3 linked regions of the Homo sapiens genome follow. The protein of the gene in region 3 interacts with the protein of the main gene of each other region in a pairwise test. Each region holds a gene or a part of one and is shown on either strand. Other genes may lie near its edges. The genes, in order: PDHX, DLAT and SIRT4.

What was found.
Region 1: the proteins of SIRT4 (region 3) and PDHX interact in binary tests that used the Homo sapiens proteins (3 or more experiments, as listed by UniProt).
Region 2: the proteins of SIRT4 (region 3) and DLAT interact in binary tests that used the Homo sapiens proteins (3 or more experiments, as listed by UniProt).

Annotation. Positions count from the first base shown.
Region 1 is NC_000011.10:34,954,607-34,961,718, reverse strand, and holds part of PDHX (pyruvate dehydrogenase protein X component, mitochondrial isoform 1 precursor), read right to left. Parts: intron 4,336-7,112; coding exon 4,136-4,335; intron 1,300-4,135; coding exon 1,201-1,299; intron 1-1,200.
Region 2 is NC_000011.10:112,056,383-112,063,494, reverse strand, and holds part of DLAT (dihydrolipoyllysine-residue acetyltransferase component of pyruvate dehydrogenase complex, mitochondrial isoform 2 precursor), read right to left. Parts: intron 3,593-7,112; coding exon 3,430-3,592; intron 2,776-3,429; exon of another isoform or gene 2,758-2,775; coding exon of another isoform or gene 2,701-2,757; intron 2,458-2,700; coding exon 2,321-2,457; intron 1,090-2,320; coding exon 960-1,089; 3' UTR 1-959.
Region 3 is NC_000012.12:120,297,976-120,305,409, reverse strand, and holds the start of SIRT4 (NAD-dependent protein lipoamidase sirtuin-4, mitochondrial), read right to left. Parts: upstream 3,090-7,434; 5' UTR 3,032-3,089; intron 1,850-3,031; 5' UTR 1,849-1,849; coding exon 1,352-1,848; intron 1-1,351. UniProt on the Homo sapiens protein: Acts as a NAD-dependent protein lipoamidase, biotinylase, deacetylase and ADP-ribosyl transferase. Catalyzes more efficiently removal of lipoyl- and biotinyl- than acetyl-lysine modifications.

The sequences.
Region 1 (7,112 bases), on a different chromosome or scaffold from region 3:
TGTAATACACATAAATGAGGATATCTAAGAATTAAATCTATATACTGCTTTCAATAAAATAAACACCCAACAGTAAGCCAAAGCTTTCATGAAGAGTAAAATAACCCAGTGGAAAAAAGAAAACATTGCCTGGCCCAACACTGCCACTTATAATTTAACAACCATTGCTCTCTCTCGACTTACAAAAATTCTGGCCAATATTATTTTTTATTTCCTATCAATATTAGATAAATATGGAATGAGTACATTGCTTTAAAACATAAACTCAATTTGAAACATTTACTATTACTGCCAATAAAAATGTAGCACATAACACTACTGAAATCTTACATTAGTTCATAAGCCTATTTGATTAATCTTTGTCTACCCTACTAGACTAAGTTTCAACAGAACAGGGGCCATCTGTTTTGAAAGACACAAACATTTAAACTAATGGAAAGACACAAACATTTAAACCAGTGTTGCAGAACAGAAAGACCCATCATGATAAAGATGTCAGTTCTCACAAAGTTAATTTAAAATGTGATACAATCCCATAAAAATACCCCTCACTCCTACCCATGGAGCTAGACGAACTGCTTAAAATTCATTTGGAAGAATAATAAAATAAGAATGAACTAAGAAAACTGATTTAAAAAAAGAGCAAAGCTATTGTTATCAGATTTTAAAGCATACAATAAAACATTTCTAATTAAAAGTGTGGTACTAAAAAAGTATGGTACTAACTCATGGACAGATGGATCAGTGAAATAGAAAAGAAAATCTAAAAAGAGACCAAACTGTATATGGAAATTGCTTTATAACAGCACAAGTGAATAAAATTCAAAGGGATAATGAAAATAATTTTTTAAAAATATATTTCCTTGTTTTAGAAATGTAAATGTTATTGCATGATTTCACATATTTAATACTGTATAAAGTTTCACTGTTCTACGCTCTAATTTTCTGCATTTATTACCACTTCTAAGGATCTTGCTTAGTTACCAAATTAGAGCTGTTCTTCAGTAATGCTATAATTATTCAGAAAACAACTCTTGCATAGAATACAATTTACAATGATAAAAGCAATTAAAAGTACAAAAGAAGAACAGTGTACCTCCTTTTAAATCTTAAGACTGAATAAGCTCTTTTTATTTTCTTTCAAAAAAACATGATCATAATAAATAATGGAACTGGTTATTACAAAAAGCAAACACATACTCTTTAGTGAATATCCCCCGAGGGCCAGTGGCTGTGCCCTGGCTAGCATCCAGTGAGTGTTTTTCCAGAATATTGCGGGCAGCTGGACTTAAACGGAACCTAAGAAAAAAATATGAAGGTTAATAGAACCAATTAACACTTACATTTGATTCAAATAGATCTAAATGTCAACAGTTTCGCAAATAATTAAAAAAAAATCTTATAATAAAGCTAAAATGACTCCCACAGATGGTCACAGTCAAATAATCTGTACCAATTTGGTTTATTTTATTCTTTAAACACTTTCGTAAAAATTTAGTTACTATTTCTAAATATGATTTTAATAAGAATAAATATTAATTAGGGGAAAGAGCTGCTATTTCAACTAATTACTTTCACATGGGTGCTCATCACAACTACCAATTGTTTCCTTCGTATATTTTGTTCTATCATTTCTTCATATATTTTGTATTGTGGCAAATGATACCTAAAATTTATCATTTTAAGCATTTTTAGGTGTACAACTGAGTGGCATTTAGTACAATCACACTATTGTGCAACCATCACCACCATCTATCTCCAGAAATGTTCATCTTTCCAAATTGAAACTCTGTATCTATTAAACAGTAACTCTCCATTCCTCCTTCCTCCCAACCCCTGGTAACCATTCTCTTTGTCTCTGTCAATTTGACTACTCTAGGTAACTCACATAAGTAGAATCATACAGTTATTTGTTTTGTGACTGGCTTATTTTACTGAGCATAATATTCTCAAGGTTTATCCATGCAGCATTTATCAGAATTTCCTTCCTAAAAAGCTGAATCACATTTCATAGCATTTTGGACTTATGAGTTGTTTCTACCATTTTGCTACTGTGAATAATGTTGCTATGAACATAGATGTACAAATATCTCTTTCCAGTCTTTGCTTTCAGTTATTTTGCATATATATCTGGAAGTGGACCTACTAGATGATATGGTAATTTTAATTTTCTAAGAAACTGCCATACTGTTTTCCACAGTAGCTGCAGCATTTTACACTTCCACTAGGCAACAACAAGGGTTCCAAATTATCCATGTCCTTGCCAACACTTGTTATAATCTGGGTCTGGTTTGGTTTTTGTTTGTTTGTTTGTTTTGATACTAGCCATCCTGAAGGGTATGAAGGGGTGTCTCATTGTGGTTTTGATTTTCATTTCCCTAATGGTTAGTGACGGTGAACATATTTTTCATGTGCCTGCTGGCCATCTATGTATCTTCTTGGGAGAAATGCTATTAAAGTTCTTCACCTGTTTTTTAATTGGGTTGTTTTGCTGAGGTTGAATTGTATGTATACACAATTATATATATTTATTATATATATAGGATACCTCAGATTACATGACTAATGGTATATCTCTTGTATGCAAAGTAGTAAACAAATTACTACATGGTCAGATAAAGAAAATAAGCCTGATTAGTACAGATTAAAACAGGCTGGATCTAGAAATTAAAGCTAAGAGACAGAAACAACTGTGGAACTTGCTGCATTTCAGGGAAGTATTAAATAACTCTGATATGGGCCCAATGTTACTAAATCTTTAGATTTTTCAAGAGAATCTGAAATTTTAGATTTTTATATAGGATTAGTAACCAACCAACCAAAAAAAAATTTTTTTTTCATTCACTGTGTGCCCAACAGTATGCAGAGTTCACAGGTCAGTAGGTTTTTAACCTACACAGTGGGGCCTGATTCATGCGAGTCTCTGATGATGACTGATCTTAATTAGGGTACATACTATTATTATCTTTGCAAGGGCAGAAGACCATTAGTTAGAAAGCATCAGTGAGACTGTCTTCCAATTTTTAGGGTAAATGAAAGAGGAGACAGTAAATGGGAGTCAAGGCAACAGAGTCAGAAACACTGCACTAGGAATTTAAAATCAGTACTTCAAAAAGCAGGCCAGGCGCAGTGGCTCACGCCTGTAATCCCAGCACTTTGGGAGGCCGAGGCAGGCGGATCATGAAGTCAGGAGTTCGAGACCAGCCTGGCCAACATGGAGAAACTCCATCTCTACCAAAAATACAAAAAAATTAGCCAGGCATGGTGGCACATGCCTGTAATTCCAGCTACTCAGGAGGCTGAGGCAGGAGAATCGCTTGAACCCAGAAGACCGAGGTTGCGGTAAGCTGAGATTGCACCATTGCACTCCAGCCTGGACAATGAGATCAAAACTCCGTCACCCACCTCCGCACGCCCCCCCCTAAAAAAAGCACTGTGGATTCTTTTCTGACAATGATAAACTAAAGGAAAAAATGTTTAAGAATGAAGAGGTCTACTTTATGAAGATCTTTTTCTCGTAAAGAAAAAGTAATGTTGTATAATTATATAGAATACTAAATAAATGAAATGTTAGAATTTACAGAGTTCTTCTATTAAAGCAATGTAAAACTAAAGTGAAATGATGTGTATTAAGTTATCTGTTTTGTTACAGAACAGACAAAATTGAGCTCTAGTCTGTGCCGGAAAGTCATAATGCAGACTAGTTTGAAAACGAATGCATGTTAAAACATGAATTCTATTTTATATCAGATAGACATTTGAGCTTGGAATTCCTGTAACAGTAATTAGAACTCCATAAATGGGAACAGAGTATCAAGTTTGGTATATTGAATACCATTTTAGACTTCTAAAACCTAATTCAACCTCAACATGGACACATACTGTTTGGTTTTCCATTGTGCAAGCAGGGCTTTTAGAGTACCTGGAACATAGCAGATATTCAGTAACTATTTATTTACTGAATGAACAATGATGGTTAAAAAAAAAAACACACACTCTAAGGTCTGAGTGTGCTGAGAACAGCAACTTCCTACGTGATGTACAACGATGTGCGAATATGATAATGATTACAATTCCATAAGAACTGCCATAACTTTTTTTTTTTACATCATCCTTTGAATAAATATATACTCACCGTAGTGTCCCGGGTATGTGTTCCTTCTTGACAGGGATGGAAATCTGTGGTTCTGGTGAGGGGCGAGGCTCTGAAGGTTTTGAAACTGGTGGTGGAGGACCTACGTCTTTGGGAATTTCAACATGTTTCCAATCTTCTCCTTCTTCTACTATCAAACCAATTAGTGAACCTAGCCGTATATTTTTACTTCCTTCTTCAACCTATATTTAAAAAAGAAGTAACTGTAGAGAAGTAAAACCCCATGACTGCATTAAGTAGTTTGTTCTTTTGTTGGGTAATTCTCCCCTTAAGATATCTTAATTTGAGCTAAAAGCTGCTTCCAAGACAGTTTGCCTCTGCCTTCCACCTGTCACCTTCTCCACTTTCTCCCACTTATGCCTTCCTTCACCATTCTCCTCTTCCCACTTGCTAATGCTACCTTCTGAAATAAAGGATAAATCTAGAATGTATCCTCTTTCTGAGAGCCTTCAAATAAACATGTAAGATCCATCATTATCATCTTCTTTTTGATGTCAATACAAATCCAAACAGGAGCCTGTGGCTACATATCTTAACCATTTGTCTTTCCCAGAGAGTTTCTATGCAATGGCTTTAGAATTCTAAAAGCTCAGAAGGGATTAACTCCCTCAACTTAGTCCAATCTACTAAAATTTACCTAATGCAAGAATCTTTTCAGTAAACTTAGTCTGAAAAGATGAACATTCTAATGTATAGATAGAACTGGTTAACTATTCCAGTTAATGTTAAATATAGTCTACTTCTTTATATTTAATTATTTCCCTGTATATCTATTTACAAAACCTGAAAAATAAAATAAAACCTCATGAGTTTTTTTATAAGTATATCAGAAACACAGTGGTGTCTCAGTTAATAAAGCATTTCTTCCACAGATAATGCCAATTAAACACTTAAATAAAATCAAAGATAATGTTTTTAAAAGTTAAGTATATTTTAAGCATTTCAGCAGCATTAATTTATAAAGAAAGGGCTAATTCTAATTTACTTACTAAAAAGAAGTCCCTAGAAAACCTTCAAATAACAATATTTTATAAGTTCACTCCTGGAAGAAAATGTCATTCCCTTAAAATCTTCTATTATTCCCTTTCAATTACTCTAAATAAGGTTCATTAGCTGTATTTAATGAACAATAGAATGATAGGCTGCAGGACGTCCACTAATACAGTAATGGTAAGGAAAAGCATAACTTCTAGAATGAGTTTGACATATCAGAGTAACACTAATTTCAATGCTTACTGGTATGTTCACTATCGTTAATAAGGCATAAGTTATAAGGGGTTAGGAAGCTAAGTTTACTAATTACTGATGAAGAAGAAAAGCAGCAATGCTTTCATGAAGCAAAATACATATATATATATATGAAATTAGTATAGAAAGCTGAATAGGAATGTTTAATGAATTACAAGCTATGGAAGAATACTAAGAAAGCCAAGAAAAATCTAGTTGCTTAGTTGTTTGCCACATACTAAAAAATTTTGCTTCTGCAGAGTTCCTTTTTCTTTACTATGTCAAAAAGATGAGTTAAGATTATTATTAGACCAATATTTTTCTTCTAAAAGTGTTTAATTACCTGCTTGTGAATTGCTAACTCAAAAATCAAAGTAAAATGACTAATTTTCTTTAAAAATGTATACAAAAAAGCACTGTTAAGTGACATGAAGTCCACTTGATGTTAATTCCTTTCAAAACTGAATCAGAAATAGGATCAATATCCAAGTACAAAGAACATCATTCAAATGTAAAGCATTAAAAAAAGTTTTGCTTTAAAAATATCAATAGATTTCTAAAATCTGAGTCAGACAACTGTACTACATCTGAAAGTGGTACCTCACCTTCTGTTTCATTTACTGTAAATCATATAAATGATTCCATATATACTCTACCAACGTAACATTGACACCTTCACAAGTAGGCAATAAACAGCATTTATCATCATTTCAATTTTTACCATTATCTAAATATCAAATAAAATTTATTTTTAACTATTCACATTTTTTTCTATTTAAAAAAGTGACACCATGAAGCATGAAACCCAAATACAATGGACAAGGACAAGTGATATACAACCATACAACTTGAATATATAACAGAAGATAAAATACAGTTGATTATAATTCCATTTAAAGTCATTAAAATCTCTATATGAATTTAAGATAATTTCTTCAACCTTTTCTATTCCTTTGGTGCAGAGATCTTTCAGAGGTGTGCTAATTTCCTGTAAGCATTTGCTTACACTGTAGTAGGCAAATACTCAAAACTGGTGTAGACTTAGTATAAATACGTAAATAATACTCTTTGCAAAACTGTTTAAAAACCAAGCAGGCCTCTGTTACTGTTCCCTTTCCTCTCTGAGCTACCTCCATGGTAGCTCATGGTACCTCCATGGATACACTCTGCCCTACCAAAGCATCTGGAGCTAAGGACACCTCAAATGCCAGAGTTTTCTTATGCACTCAGCTTACTTGACCAAAGCCCTCTCTTACTCTTCTGCCAATGATTTCTTAATATTAAATGCAGGGTTTTTACACATAGCTCTATCAACTTAGAGCTCATCGATACTGAAATATTGAATGTTGAGTCTATCATTTCAAATATTAGCCTTCCCTCCCAGTTGTGTACAGACTTCCTGAGTTTCAACGCTGGCTCCACCACTTACTAGTTATGTGACCTTAGTAAAGTTTCCTTATCTCACCATGCTTGTTTTCTGAGCTGTAAGATGCAAATAACAGTAGCTACTTCACATTGTTGTTATGAGGAATAAATGAGTTATATGTAAGGCCCTTAGAATAGTGTCTGATAGCTAGTAACTTGTTTTCATTTTCATTGTTAAAGGCATTATTATTGCTGTTGTTATTGCTGTGGTGTTTTCCTTCAAATTATGGATTTTTTAAAACAATACATTCAACATGGATCAAGATTAGACTACAGGGGACTGACCCCTTGGTATGGGTTAGAAATT
Region 2 (7,112 bases), on a different chromosome or scaffold from region 3:
TAAATGGACTTTGGCACATATCTAACTCTAGTAACAATATTTTACATATGTACACTTATTCCATATATATTCCTTAGTTATTTGATAGCATTTTCCACAGTGGAGTCATAAATTCTGTTCATTATGTTCATTTACAATGAACTACCAGTTAATCTTAGAAAATTTTAGTTTCACAACTTCTGTTAAATTATATTAACAATGTTTCTTTTTTGGAGGTAACTGTTGAATTCTGTACTCAAAATTACACATTTGTTTAAATAAATATCCACACAAATTCTCAGTTACATCAAGTAGCTGGTTTATATTTAGATTATCTCAAGTAGGGGGGAATAACCATGTGTAGGAATTCATAGAAAAATAAACAATCAGCTGAAGAGGTCTAAGAAAATGCTGACTTTTAAAATTTCACTTATTTTCCTTGAAGTTTTCTACCCTTCCCATCGATGATAAACCAAGATCATGTAATGGAAAATTTCAAACCAGGGCTAAATTCTAAAGTAAAGCTTCAATTCAAGCCCTTCCCCCAAGAGAATTAATTTTTCTGATTTCTCTTTCTCTCACATCTAAGGAGAACATTTTAGGCAGTTAAATTTCAGAACTTCAAGGTTTCATCAGGGTCACCTTTATGTACTTGTCTTTAGGGAACCACAATTCTACCTATCGTACATTTCCTAGAGGAAGTACTTATCACCAAAGGGCTAGGCAAGGCCACATACATGTCCCTTAATTAGGAGTACAGAGCTAAAAATCTGGTGTCTGATTATTAAATGTGCACAATATTTGGGTGTAATCGGCATTTTAAAAATTCAGTAATGCCCATTATAAATAACTTATCTGGACAGACTCAATAATAAAAATAACTGGTTAAAATAAAAAGAACCACCTGTTTAATAACATATAAATATCTTGTTAAGAATGAATCAGTGTGACCTGGGAGAGTTTAGAAATTCTTGAGTTAGTTACAACAACATAGTGATAGGTTTTTCAAGGTACTTTCTAAACTCAGCAAGCCACTGGGCTCCAACTGCTCCATCCACCACCCGGTGATCACAACTGAGTGTAACAGACATCATGCTAGCCACATCAAACCTAGAAAAAGATAAAGACATTTTAGATATTCTGAAAGAAAATACTGCATTTCAGCCAGTAACCACCCAAATGCTCACTCCTACCCTATAATCCCAACCAGGTAATACTTCCTATCTACTCTTCCAGTCTCCTATACCTTTAGCTCAAATTTATAGCTTGAAGAAACAGACCAGATACCTGGAGTATGGGTGGGCAATGGGCCAAATCCTGTCCTCTGCCTGTTTTTATTAGGTAAAGATTTACTGCAATTCATTTGTCTTGTTTATGCCTCCCTTCATACTACAATGGCAGATTATTTGCAACAGCAGCCATATGTCCCAGAAAGCCTAAAATACTTACTATACAACTAAAAAAAAGCATGCTGACTCCTCACCTAGAATAAATAAGGCTTTCCACCTCAAATAGGACTAACTGCATTTAGTAAAGTTGCTGCCTTGAAGAATTTCGTATTTTTTATATATATATAATTTTATTTGAAGATACAATATAGCATGCCAATAACTATATATAAAACTGAGACTCTGGCCAGGCACACTGGCTCATTCCTGTAATCCCAGCACTTTGGAAGGCTGAGGTGAGCAGATCATTTGAGGTCAGGATCAAGACCAGCCTGGCCTACATGGTGAAACAACATGTCTACTAAAAATACAAAAATTAGCCAAGTGTGGTAGTACATGCCTGTAATCCCAGCTATAGCTACTTGGGAGGCTGAGGCAGGAGAATTATTTGAACCTGGGAGGCGGGGATTGCAGTGAGCCGAGATGGCACCACTGCACTTCTGCCTGGGTGACAGGGTGAGTGAGACTCCATCTCAAACAAACAAACAAAAAAAACACTGATACTCAAAAACAGGTATGGTTGACCCTCCATATATCCATGGGTTCCGAATCCATAGATTCAACCAACCATGGATCAAAATATCCAGAAAGTAAACAATTCCACAAATTTCCAGTAAGCACAACTTGAATTTGCTGCACACCGGGCACTACACTGGATCCATGTGAATGAAGTGCTGTTTAGGTATTGTATTATTATAAGTCAAGAATAAAGTATACAGAATAATGTGTGTAGGTTATATGCAAATATTACATCATATCATATCAGGGACTTGAGCATTGTGGATCACGATATTTGAGGGGGTTCCTGGAGCCAATCCCCTGAGGATACCACAGGACAAGTGTACAGTGTAATAAAAATTAGCTTACGACTTCCCCTCCATTTTGGCACTTACCCTTTTTCATTATCTGCAGGGACCAGTTTATCCTCTGAAGCACCAATTGCCAAAATACATGCTTGAGGTGGGTTAATAATAGCAGAGAAATTCTTAATTCCAAACATTCCTAAATTGGAGATCGTAAAAGTGCCACCCTAGAGGAAAAAAAATTAAAAATAAATTATAGTTTGTCAACATAAATCAGAAAACTTGACAAATGTTCTGTGAAAAGACCTTAAGCTAAAAAGGTGCAAGGTCTTAAGAAAGGCCTGAATGGAATACACATTACTGAAGATATACAACCATTACAATATGAACAAAAATGTCAGCCGGAAAATGTCTTATTTTCAAACAATATCTTCTTTTGGATATATGATTGAATTTTACTTTATTTTCAGAACGGTGTGTCAATAAGAGTTACGTGGCAGGCCAGGCACAGTGGCTCACACCTGTAATCCCAGCACTTCGAGAGGGTGAGGCGGGTGGATCATTTGAGGTCAGGAGTTTGAAACCAGCCTGGCCAACATGGTGAAACCCCGACACTACTAAAAACATACACACACACACAAAATTAGTCAGGTGCAGTGGTGCATGCCTGTAATACCAGCTACTCAGGAGGCAGAGGTAGGAGAATTGCTTGAACCTGGGAGGCGGAGGTTGCAGTGAGCCAAGATTGCACCATTGTACTCCAACCTGGGTGACAAGAGTGAGACTCTGTTTCAAAAAAGAATTACGCTGGGCGTGGTGGCTCATGCCTGTAATCCCAGCACTTTGGGAGGCTGAGGCAGGCGGATCACAAGGTCAGGAGATCAAGACCATCCTGGCCAACATGGTGAAAACCAGTCTCTACTAAAAATACAAAAAACTAGCCGGGCGTGGTGGCAGGTGCCTGTAGTCCCAGCTACTTGGGAGGCTGAGGCAGGAGAATGGCGTAACCCAGGAGGCGGAGCTTGCAGTGAGCCGAGATCATGCCACTGCACTCCAGCCTGGGTGACAGAGAGACTCCGTCTCAAAAAAAAAAAAAAAAAAAAAAATTACGTGACAGAATCAAAAGGTGAAAAATGCAATAAATGCATTATGCAAACCTTAAAAATAACATAATTAGAAAGCAATAATTAATACCCTACCTGGAATTCATGTGGCTGTAGTTTACCCTCTCTTGCTTTGGTTGCTAAAGAAACAACATCATTAGCAATGGTTTCCACTCCTTTTATATGTGCATTAAACACAATAGGTGTGATGAGTCCTGCAGGAGTACTGACCGCAACACTGACATCAACAACATGATTTCTGTTTAAAAAGAAAAATAAATATAATAAAAAACTGTTTATTAAGAGCCTGTGTGCCAGGTTAAGCAAGAATATTTATATTTACTTCAAAAATTTTTTGAACCAATGTGTGTTATTGTTCAGCCAAAGACAAAAATTAAGATGTCTATCCTAATTTTTACATTTTGCTGTGCCCTCTCCTTGACTTGTAGTTATTAAAAATCAAAGAGAGGTCCGGGAACGGTGGCTCATGCCTGTAATCCCAACACTTTGGGAGGCTGAGGTGGGCGGATCACTTGAAGTCAGTAGTTTGAGACCAGCCTGGCCAACATGGCGAAACTCTGTCTCTACCAAAAATACAAAAGTTAGCTGGGCATGGTGGTGCACAGCTGTAGTGCCAGCTACTCAGGAGGCTGAGGCAGGAGAACCACTTGAACCTGGGAGGTGGAGGTTGCAGTGAGCTGAGATCACACCACTGCACTCCAGCCTGGGCAGCAGAGCGAGACTCCATCCCCCAACGCTGCCCCTGCCCCTGACCCCACCGCCTGCCAAGAAAAAAAAAAAAAAAAAAGAATGAGAAATGTGTCAGCAGCAGTAGGTTGGTTTCGCACATATCGTCTAACATCCCCTGCCGTCTGCCTTGACCGACACGTGAATGCAGCTGAAAGAAAACCCCACCAATCAGAACTCCTTGGATTTTGAGTGGACGTACATTGGCTGCAGTTGAGTCTCTGCAAGTAGTTTGAGCAGATGAAAGGAAGAGTGAAGGGAAAGAACTGCATTGTAGCAAGAAATAGGAGTGCTCAGGATACATGGGTGGTGGTACCTCAGAAGAACGTAAAAGTAAGGGGTCCCAATCTTTTTTTTTTTTTTACACAATATCAGATCTTCTGTTATCAAGGAGTCCCAATCTTTTCTACAGAATGTGTCCCTATGCATCTGGATCTTATCTCAGAATACCTTTTTAACACTGAAAATACTCAAATTACTAGAAAAAAGAGAGAAACTATACTGAAATTCAGTTATCAAACGGTTCAAAAGCAAAATTATGACAAATGTGCTTCTGTATTCACTCAATAATAAGATCTTGTTGCAGGTCTAATAATGGCTATCATTTTGAAGCAGGGATGAACAAAATAACATTTTGAGATATATACAACTACAATGTGATATGAAAATAACTGATTTTTATTGGTCACCAGACACAAGTACTGTTAACATTTGATCTGTTCTCTACATTTATAAAAGGAAGAAATGCTAAATGTTAGTAGAAAAAAAAAAAGGTGATTCCCCCCCCCCACCCCCCCCTTCCCCCACCCCAACTGAAGTTCACAAGCTCATGGATTCATGGATTTTATCCGTGGTCTCCTTGGGGTCTGCCTAAGGGCCCCTGCTAGTGTTCTGCAATCGAGAAAAAGTTAAGACTTCAAACAAAGGCACAGCTCTGCCTCCAAAGAACTCCAGCTCTTTCTAGGCACAAGCTCCAAAAAGATCAGTGGGTACCAAATCCCCCAATTTGCCTAAGTTGGCTAGAGCAGGATTTTGTCACTTGCAAACAAACACAGGAACCTGCTCTAATAAAAATACCGTGTATGACTCATTAATTACCACAGAACTGTAGCCAAGGTATCACACAGCAAATACTGCTTTCTTGAATAAATTATTACAATATTGCTTGTTCAATCATCTTCCCTTTGAGACAGTAAGGACAGTATTCCCTATATTGTTCACCACTGAATCCAGTAAACAGTACATGTTAAATAAATGTTGAATGGGTGTATGAACAAGTAAATGAATGGTGTTTGGTTAGAATTAACAGACAACCTCAATTTCTTCATCTAAGTATAGAAATATCTTGATATTCCAGGTTCAGTTCCAGACCACCAAAATAATATTGCAATAAAGCGAGTCACATGAATTTTCTGATCTCCTAGTACATACAAAAGTTATGCTTAACACTACACTGTTGTCTACTAAGAGTGCAATAGCATCGTGACTAACAAAAAACCAATGTATACACCTTAATTTAAAAATACTTTATTGCTAAAATATGCTAAAAATCACCTGAACTTTTAGTGAATTGTAATTTTTTGCTGGTAGATCTTGCCTTGATGTTGATGGCTGCCGACTGATGAGGGATATCAATTATCTTAGCTGTATCTTCTGAATAATTTGCTGCTTCACCCTGTACTTTTATGTTATTATGGCCTCCTTTCCTTCAACCTCATGAGCCAACCTCTGCTAGCCTCAAACTTCTGTTACGCGGCTTCCTCACCTCTATCAGCCTTCAAAGAATTGAAGAGAGTTAGGGCCTTGCTCTGAATTAAGCTTTGGCTTAAGGGAATGCTGTACCTGGTTTAATCTTTTATCTAGACCACTCAAAACTTTCTCCGTATCAGCAACAAGGCTGTTTCACTTTCTTATCATTCGTGTGTTCACCAGGATAGTACTTTTCATTTCTTTCAAGAGCTTTTTCTTTGTATTCACAAGTTGGCTGTTTGGCACAAGAGGCCTAGCTTTCAACCGATCTTGGCTTTTGACATGCCTTACTCATTGAGCTTAATCATTTCTAGCTTTTGATTTAAAGTAAGAGACGTGAAAGTCTTCCTTTCACTGAAACACTCAGAGGCCATTGTAGAGTTACTAATTGGCCTGATTTCAGTTTTATTGTGTCTCATGGAATAGGGAGGCCCAAGGAGAGGGAGAGAGACAGAGGAACAGCTGGTTGATAATTCTATCAATTCTATCAACCAGTCAGAACACATGCAAAATTTATCAATGAAGTTTGCCATCTTATATGGGCATGGTTCATGGGGCATTGAAACAATTACAATGGTAACATCAAAGATCCTTGATCACAGGTCACCATAACAGATACAATAATAAAGTTTGAAATACTCTAGGAATTGCCAAAATGTGACACAGAGACAGGAAGTGAGCACATGCTGTTGGAAAAATGGTGCCATCAACTTGCTTGACAGAGGGTTGCCACAAGCCTTCAATTTATAAAAAAGCACAATAAATCAAAGTGCAATAAAGCGAGATACTCTCACAAGTAGATGGTTCTCACTTCACACCCACACGGTAACAAATATTGATGAGGACATAGAGAAACTGGAACACTTATCCACTATTGGTGGGAAGGTAAAATGGTGCAACCACTTTGAAAAATAATGTAGAAGTTTCTCTAAAAATTAAACATAATTTTACCCTATGACTCAGGTATTCCACTCCTAGGAATCTACTGAAGAGAAATAAAAATATATGTCCACACAAATAACTGTATGTAAATACTCATAGTAGCATCATTCATAATAGCAAAAAACTGGAAAACATGTTAACTGGTGAATGATAAAGAGGTATATTGATACGATTAAACACTATACAGCAATAAAAAAGAATAAACTACAGATACATGCTACAACATGGATGAGTCTCAAAAACATTTCGTTAAGTGAAAGAAAGTAGATGCAAAAGACCACATATTTTATGACTCCATTTCTATAAAAGGTCTAGAAAATACAAATCTATAGACTCAAGCA
Region 3 (7,434 bases):
GCACGGTGGCGTTTGCCTGTAGTCCCAGCTACTTAGGAGGCTGGGGTGAAAGGATCACTTGAGCCCAAGAGATTGAGGCTGAAGTGAGCTATAATCACACCACCACATCCCAGTCTGTGTGACAGAGTGAAAGCCTGTCATACACACACACACACACACACACACACGTGCACACACAAACACAAAAGAAAATAAAAGAAAATCACCCTAGCTTGCTCAACTTTCTTTTTTTTTTTTCTTTTTGAGACGGAGTTTTGCTCTGTTGCCCAGGCTGGGGTGTGGTGGCATGATCTCAGCTCATGATCTCAGCTCACTGCAACCTCTACCTCCCAGGTTCAAGCGATTCTCCTGCCTCAGCCTCCTGAGTAGCTGGAATTACAGGTGCGTGCCACCACTTCCAACAGATTTTTGTATTTTTAGTAGAGACGGGGTTTCACCATGTTGACCAGATTGGTCTTGAACTCCTGACCTCAGGTAATCTGCCTGCCTTGGCCTCCCAAAGTGCTGGGATTACAGGCGTGAGCCACCACACCCGGCCTCAACTTTCTTTAAAAAAAAAAAAAAAAAAAAAAAATATATATATATATATATATATATATATATATAAAATTTACTTTACTTATATAGAGACAGAGTCTCACTGTGTTTGCCAGGTTGGTCCTGAACTGTTAGCCTCAAGCAATCTTCCTGCCTCAGCCTTCCAAAGTGCTAGGATTACAGGTATGAGCCACTGTGCACCATCCTCAACTTTTTTTTTTCTTTTTTTCTTTTTTTTTGCACTGTTGCCCAGGCTGGAGTGTAGTGGTGCAATCTCGGCTCACTGCAGCAACCTCTGCCTCCCAAGAGATTTTCCTGCCTCAGCCTCCCAAGCAGCTGGGATTACAGGCATGTGCCACCACGACTGGCTAATTTTTGTATTTTTAGTAGAAATGGGGTTTCACCATGTTGGCCAGGCTGGTCTCGAACTCCTGAGCTCATGTGATCTGCCCACCTCAGCCTCCCAAAATGCTGGGATTACAGGCGTGAGCCACTGCGCCCGGCCCCAGTCCTCAAGTTTCATTGAGACAATCCTCAGGCATGTCCTAGACAGTTGGAGGGTCCCTCACAGGACTGAACCCCAGTGCCCAAGGCAGTAACCCACTCATTAACACACACTTTCTTGGCTTTCCTCTCTTTCCTGTTTTACATCCTTGCTCCGTCAATGAATTTACTGGAATCAACTGCAAAATAAACAACTTGCTCTGAAATCCTTTTCTCAAGGTCTAAGACTGTGGTGATCAAGACAGCCAAGGTCCCTACTCTCCCAAAACAACACACGGGTTTGCGTTCAAACCGTGTACAGCTCCTGCACCTGTCCATGCATCCGTGGAGCTCTGTCAGGCGCCGACTCCCCGCCTTGGTGTGCAAAGCATCCACATTTTGGGTCACCAACCAGTACAGCTTTCCGAGTTTCTCCCAGGTGCTCAAAGCCCAGTGTGCAGGGTTAGGCTGGTGGGAGGAGAATTGAGGCCAGCCTACGAAGTTTCTCGCCCAGTACCGCTGGCGGATTGGGGCACTCCGGACAAAATCACCATGCTGGATGGGCCTGCGGTCAGTGCGGGCATAAAGCCCCACTTTTTCTGACCTGTAGTCTGGTATCCCCGATTCGGTGGAGATTCCTGCCCCAGTCATCACAAGGAGTCTCTTGGAAAGGGTGATGAAGCGCTGTAACTCTTTGACCTTCTCAGGGTCCAGAGGAGGACTTGCTGGCACAAATAACCCAATGGAGGCTTTCGAGCACGGCTGGCTGGGGTTTGCGATCCAACGGCCTTTTGCTGACCTGAAAGTCAACGCAAAGCTCATCTTCATTCTAGAGAAAAAGAAGCCTCATGTGAGAAACTGGGGTGGTTTTTTTTTTTTCTCATTTTTTGTTTGTTTGTTTTCGTTTTGTTTTTTGAGACAGAGTCTCCCTCTGTTGCCCAGGCTAGAGTACAGTGGCATGATCTTGGCTCACTGTAACCGCCGCCTCCCGGGTTCAAGTGATTCTCCTGCCTCAGCCTCCAGAATAGCTGGGACTACATGGCCACCATGCCCGGCTAATTATTGTATTTTTAGTAGAGGCAGGGTTTCACCATGTTGGCCAGGCTAGTCTCGAACTCCTGAGCTCTAGTGATCTGCCCGCCTCGGCCTCCCAACGTGCTGGAATTACAGGTGTGAGCCTCTGAGTCTGGCCCTAATGAGTCAGGTTTTGTTTGATTTTGTTCATGTAATTAAGCACACACACGCATTCCTTTTATTTTTTCATTTCCCCCTTATTTTAGTTTACCCTCCACTGCAAGCTCTGCTACTTGGACACATCAGAGAGACAAGACCCCTGCCCGTCAGCTTTTCTAGCTGTAACAATAGAGGGCCGGGTGCGGTGGCTCACGTCTGAAATCCCAGCACTTTGGGAGGCCGACGCAGGCAGATCACTTGAGATCAGGAGTTCGAGACATGCCTGGCCAACATGGTGAAACCCCGACTCTACTAAAAATACAAAAAAAATTAGCCGGGCATTGTGGCACGTGCCCGTAATCCCAGCTACTAGGGAGGCTGAGGCAGGAGAATTGCTTGAACCCGGGAGGCGGAGGTTGCAGTGAGCCGAGATCGCGCCGTTGCACTCCAGCCTGGGCGAAGAAGCAAGACTCCGTATCAAAAAAAAAAAAAAAAAGAAAAAGAAAAAACTTTGACATATTATTTGACACAATGCAATGCATAAATCCTCTAGTGACATGCACCCCGTATGTAAACATTATTTTATGTTTGGCTTTCCAGATCTGAGATCAGGACCCCGCTTTCTCCTTGACATTCCACAGCAAAACGTGAACAGCTGAACAAACACACAGTCCGGTTTCCCGAGACCAAAGGGTCAGGGGAAACCCCCGCTGAAAACGTGCATCAGTGGAACAACTACTCTCTTCCAGGTCCCACCGAGGGCAAAGAGGAGAAATAGAATCCCTCACAAGAAATCCACAACTTCTAGAAATCCGCAGCACACACAGAACACACTTACCTCTCACAGCTCTACGGACACTTCACACCCCACAGTGGGACCGTCTGATTGCATTTGCATTTTGGGACATGTAGTCCAGAAAGCTTAAATGATGCGAGAAAAACCACAAGTCCCACAATCCTCCGCGTCTCGCAATTGACAGCCCCAGATCATCCAGGAACGCCCCCTGTCGGCTCTTTCTGGTCAGAGGTTCCCCCGTTAATATAAAAGCTTTTAATCATGGATTTTTTTCTTTGTTTTCAATTTCTGTGGGCACTTAGTAGGTGTATATATTTATAGTGTACATAAGATTTTTTTTCTTTTTTCTTTTTTTTTTTTAAGACGGAGTTGTTGTTTTTTTTTTTTGAAAAAACTCCAGTCTGGAGTGCAGTGGCACGATCTCGGCTCACTGCAACCTCCCTCTCCCGGGTTCAACCGATTCTCCTGCCTCAGCCTCCCGAGTAGCTGGGATTATTTTTGTATTTTTAGTAGAGACGGGGGTTTCGCCATGTTGGCCAGGCTCGTCTTGAACTCCTAACCTCAGGTGATCCGCACGCCTTGACCTCCCAAAGTGCTGGGATTATAGGCGTGAGCCACTGCGCCCGGCCATCTTTTCTCTTATTTTTTGTCTTTTTTTCTTTTCTCTGTGCCTGTCTATGCTTTACCCACATGAGATGTTTTGATACAAACATGCAATGTGAAATGAGCACGTCATTAATCATGGATCTAGATTTGACTTTTTTTTAAAGTTTTTGTATTTTTAGTAGAGACAGAGTTTCACCATGTTGGCCAGGCTGGTCTCGAACTCCCGACCTCAGGTGATCCGCCAACCTCGGCCCCCCAAAATGCTGGGATTACAGGCCTGAGCCACTGTTCCCGGCCTAGATTTGACTCATTCTAAACATCAGAGTTTGTGATCCTTTTCATTCACAACGACAGTATCAAGTTATTTGCTATTGGTAAAATACCTTGAACTTGTGAAGAAATGTGTTTATACATATCTGAAAAAGTGATAGTTTGTTGTTGTTGTTGTTGTTGTTTGTTTGTTTGTTTTTGAGACGGAGTCTCGCTCTGTTGCCCAGGCTGGAGTGCAATGGTGCCATTTCGGCTCACTGCAACCTCCGCCTCCCGGGTTCAAGCAATTCTCCTGCCTCAGCCTCCTGAGTAGCAGGGATTATGGGCGCATGCCACTACGCCCGGTTAATTTTTTTATTTTTAGTAGAGACAAGGTTTCACCATGTTAGCCAGGATGGTCTTGATCTCCTGACCTCGTGATCTGCCCACCCTAGCCTCCCAAAGTACTGGGATTACAGGCGTAAGCCACTGTGCCCAGCCAAAAGTGATGTTTTTACAGTTAATATGAAGCCAAATATATTATACCTGGACTAATGTACTTAACCTGCTTGGCTTCTCCAATTTTATTTATCATATTTTTTTTATTAAGTTAATCAAACAAGGCCTGCGTCTCACTCCCAGGGATTCTGATCTACAAATTTCCTAATTGTTCCTAATGTGTAGACAACCAGAACTGCCGCTCTGCAGCATCACCTAAATCAATAAATGTATAAGTGTCTTTGGACATAAAGGTGGGCGGCCAGCAGGGACCTTGAAGACCACCTAAGGACTCCCTTCCCCCATTTTAAGATGAATTGGGCTGAGTGCAGTGGTTCCCACCTGTAATACCAACACTTTGGGAGGCCAAGGCAGGAGGATCACTTGAGCCCAAAAGTTCAAGACCAGCTTGGGCAACATAGTGAGACCCACTCACTACAAAAAATAAACAAAATTAGCGGGGTGTGGTGGTGTGTGCCTGTAGTCCCAGCTACTCAAGAGGCTCAGGTGGGAGGATCACTTTGAGCCCAGGAGATCGAGGCTGCAGTGAGCCATAATTGTGCGACTGCACTTCAGCCTGGGTGACAAAGTGAGATCCCATCTCTTCAAAAAATAATAATAATAAATAAAGATGAACTGAAGTGCAGAGAAGTAATGTGGAAGCTTGAGAAAGAGTTTTTAGGTTTTTGGTTCTATCATTGTATCTTTGGAGGTAATATTGGCAAAATGACCATTTAGTAGTTTGCCCATTTCTGCTTTTTTTTTTTCTTTTTTTTGAGACAGGGTCTCGTTCTGTCACCCAGGCTGGAGTGCAGTTGTGACATCACAGCTCACTGCAGTTTCTACTTCCCAGGCCCAAGGGATCCTCCAACCTCATCCTCTCGAGTAGCTGAGATCACAGGCATCCACCACCACGCCCAGCTAAATTTTGTTATTTTTTATTTTTGTCGAGACACGGTCTCACTATGTTGCTCAGGCTGGTCTCAAACTCCTGAACTCAAGGAAAGCTCTTGCTTTGGCCTCCCAAAGTGCTGGGATTACAGGTGTGAGCCACCATGCCGGGCCTGCTTATTTCGACTTGGCAGCATCGTTTCATGAAGCCCCTGACTCTGTGACAACATACAGCTCTCCAGAAAGATGCTTTGAAGACAAAACAGAATAGAGCACACAGCCCTCCATGTCTCTTCCAAGTCACTATATTCATTAAAAGATAAATGACTCTGGTCATTGCCTTTTCCTGCACAAGATAATGTCTGATGGGGTTAGTGATGATACCTCTGTAATCCATAACCAGATATACTCTTGCACCCAAACTTTGATATGATTGTGCTTTAATGTAACTTTGAAGCAAGTTTAATGTGATTTTGCAGGCGCCGTACACTCACCACTTGTATATGAGTGGCTGAAATTCTGTGTTGGACCAGTCTGATGGAACTGCTCCCACACTATAGCCCTCGGTCTGTAATCCTCAGTAAGACTTGTAAGTAAAACTAACTTTAATTTTTTTTTTTTTTTTTTGAGAGAGTCTAGCTCTGTTGCCCAGGCTGGAGTGCAGTGGCGCGATCTTCACTCACTGAAGCCTCTGCCTTCCCGGCTGAAGTGATTCTGCTGCCTCGGCCTCCGGAGTAGCTAGGATTACAGGCGCTCGCCACTGCGCCCGGCTAATTTTTGTATTTTTAGTAGAGATGGGGTTTCGTCATGTTGGCCAGGCTGGTTTTGAACTCGTGACCTCAGGTGACCCACCTGCCTCAGTCTCCTAAAATGCTAGGATTACAGGAGTGAGCCACTGCACCCCGCCACTTTTATTATTATTATTATTGTATTTATTTATTTATTTATTTATTTTTGAGACGGAGTCTCGCTCTGTCGCCCAGGCTGGAGTGTAGTGGAGAGATCTCGGCCCACTACAAGCTCCGCCTCCCGGGTTCACGCGATTCTCCTGCCTCAGCCTCCGGACTACAGGCGCCCGCCACCACACCCGGCTAATTTTTTGTATTTTTTTTTTAGTAGAGACGGGGTTTCACCGTGTTAGCCAGGATGGTCTCTATCTCTTGACCTCGTGATCCGCCCGCCTCAGCCTCCCAAAGTACTGGGATTACAGGCGTGAGCCACCGCGCCCGGCTATTTATTTATTTATTTATTTATTTATTTATTTATTTTTTGAGACGGAATATTGCTCTGTGCCCAGGCTGGAGTGCAGTGGCACGATCTCAGATCACTGCAACCTCCGCCTCCCGGGTTCAAGTGATTCTCCTGCCTCAGCCTCCCGAGTAGCTGGGATTACGGGTGCCCGCCACCATGCCCGGCTAATTTTTGTATTTTTAGTAGAGACGGGGTTTCACCATGCTTGTCAGCATGGTCTCGAACTCCTGACCTCGCGATCCGCCCGCCTCAGCCTCCCAAAGTGCTGGAATTACAGGCATGAGCCACTGCGCCCTGCCACTTTAATTATTTAAAAGCTTATTTTTTTATTTTGGGGACATGGTCTCACTCTTTCACCCAGGCGGGAGTTCAGAGGCACGATCACTGCGCACTACAGCCTCAACCTCTTGGACTCAAACCATCCTCCCACCTCAGCCTCCTGAGTAGCTGGGACTACAGGTGGGCCACCAAGCCCAGCTAATTTTTGTATTTTTTTGTAGAGACGGGGTTTCACCATGTTGCCCAGGCTGGTCTCGAACTCCTGGGCTCTAGGCTTTCCAAAGTGTTGTGATTACGGGCGTGAGCTACTGCGCCTGGCCGATTCTTTTTAACTTAGTACACAGGGAGTAGTAGCTCCAGCAACAGCGAAAGTCAGTAGCTGTAGGATCTACTAGGCGGGGAAACTCATATGACAGCCCCCTCCTTTTTTTTTTTTTTTTTTTTTTTTTTGAGATGGAGTTTCACTCTTGTTGACCAGGCTGGAGTGCAATGGCGCCATCTTGGCTCACCGCAACCTCCGCCTCCCGGGTTCAAGTGATTCTCCTGCCTCAGCCTCCCCAGTATCTGGGATTACAGGTGTGAGCCACTGCGCCCGGCCACCCCCTTTTTTTTTCAAGGCTGCAGTGAGCCATGATCCTGTGACTGCACTCCAGCCACTGACAGCCCTTTCT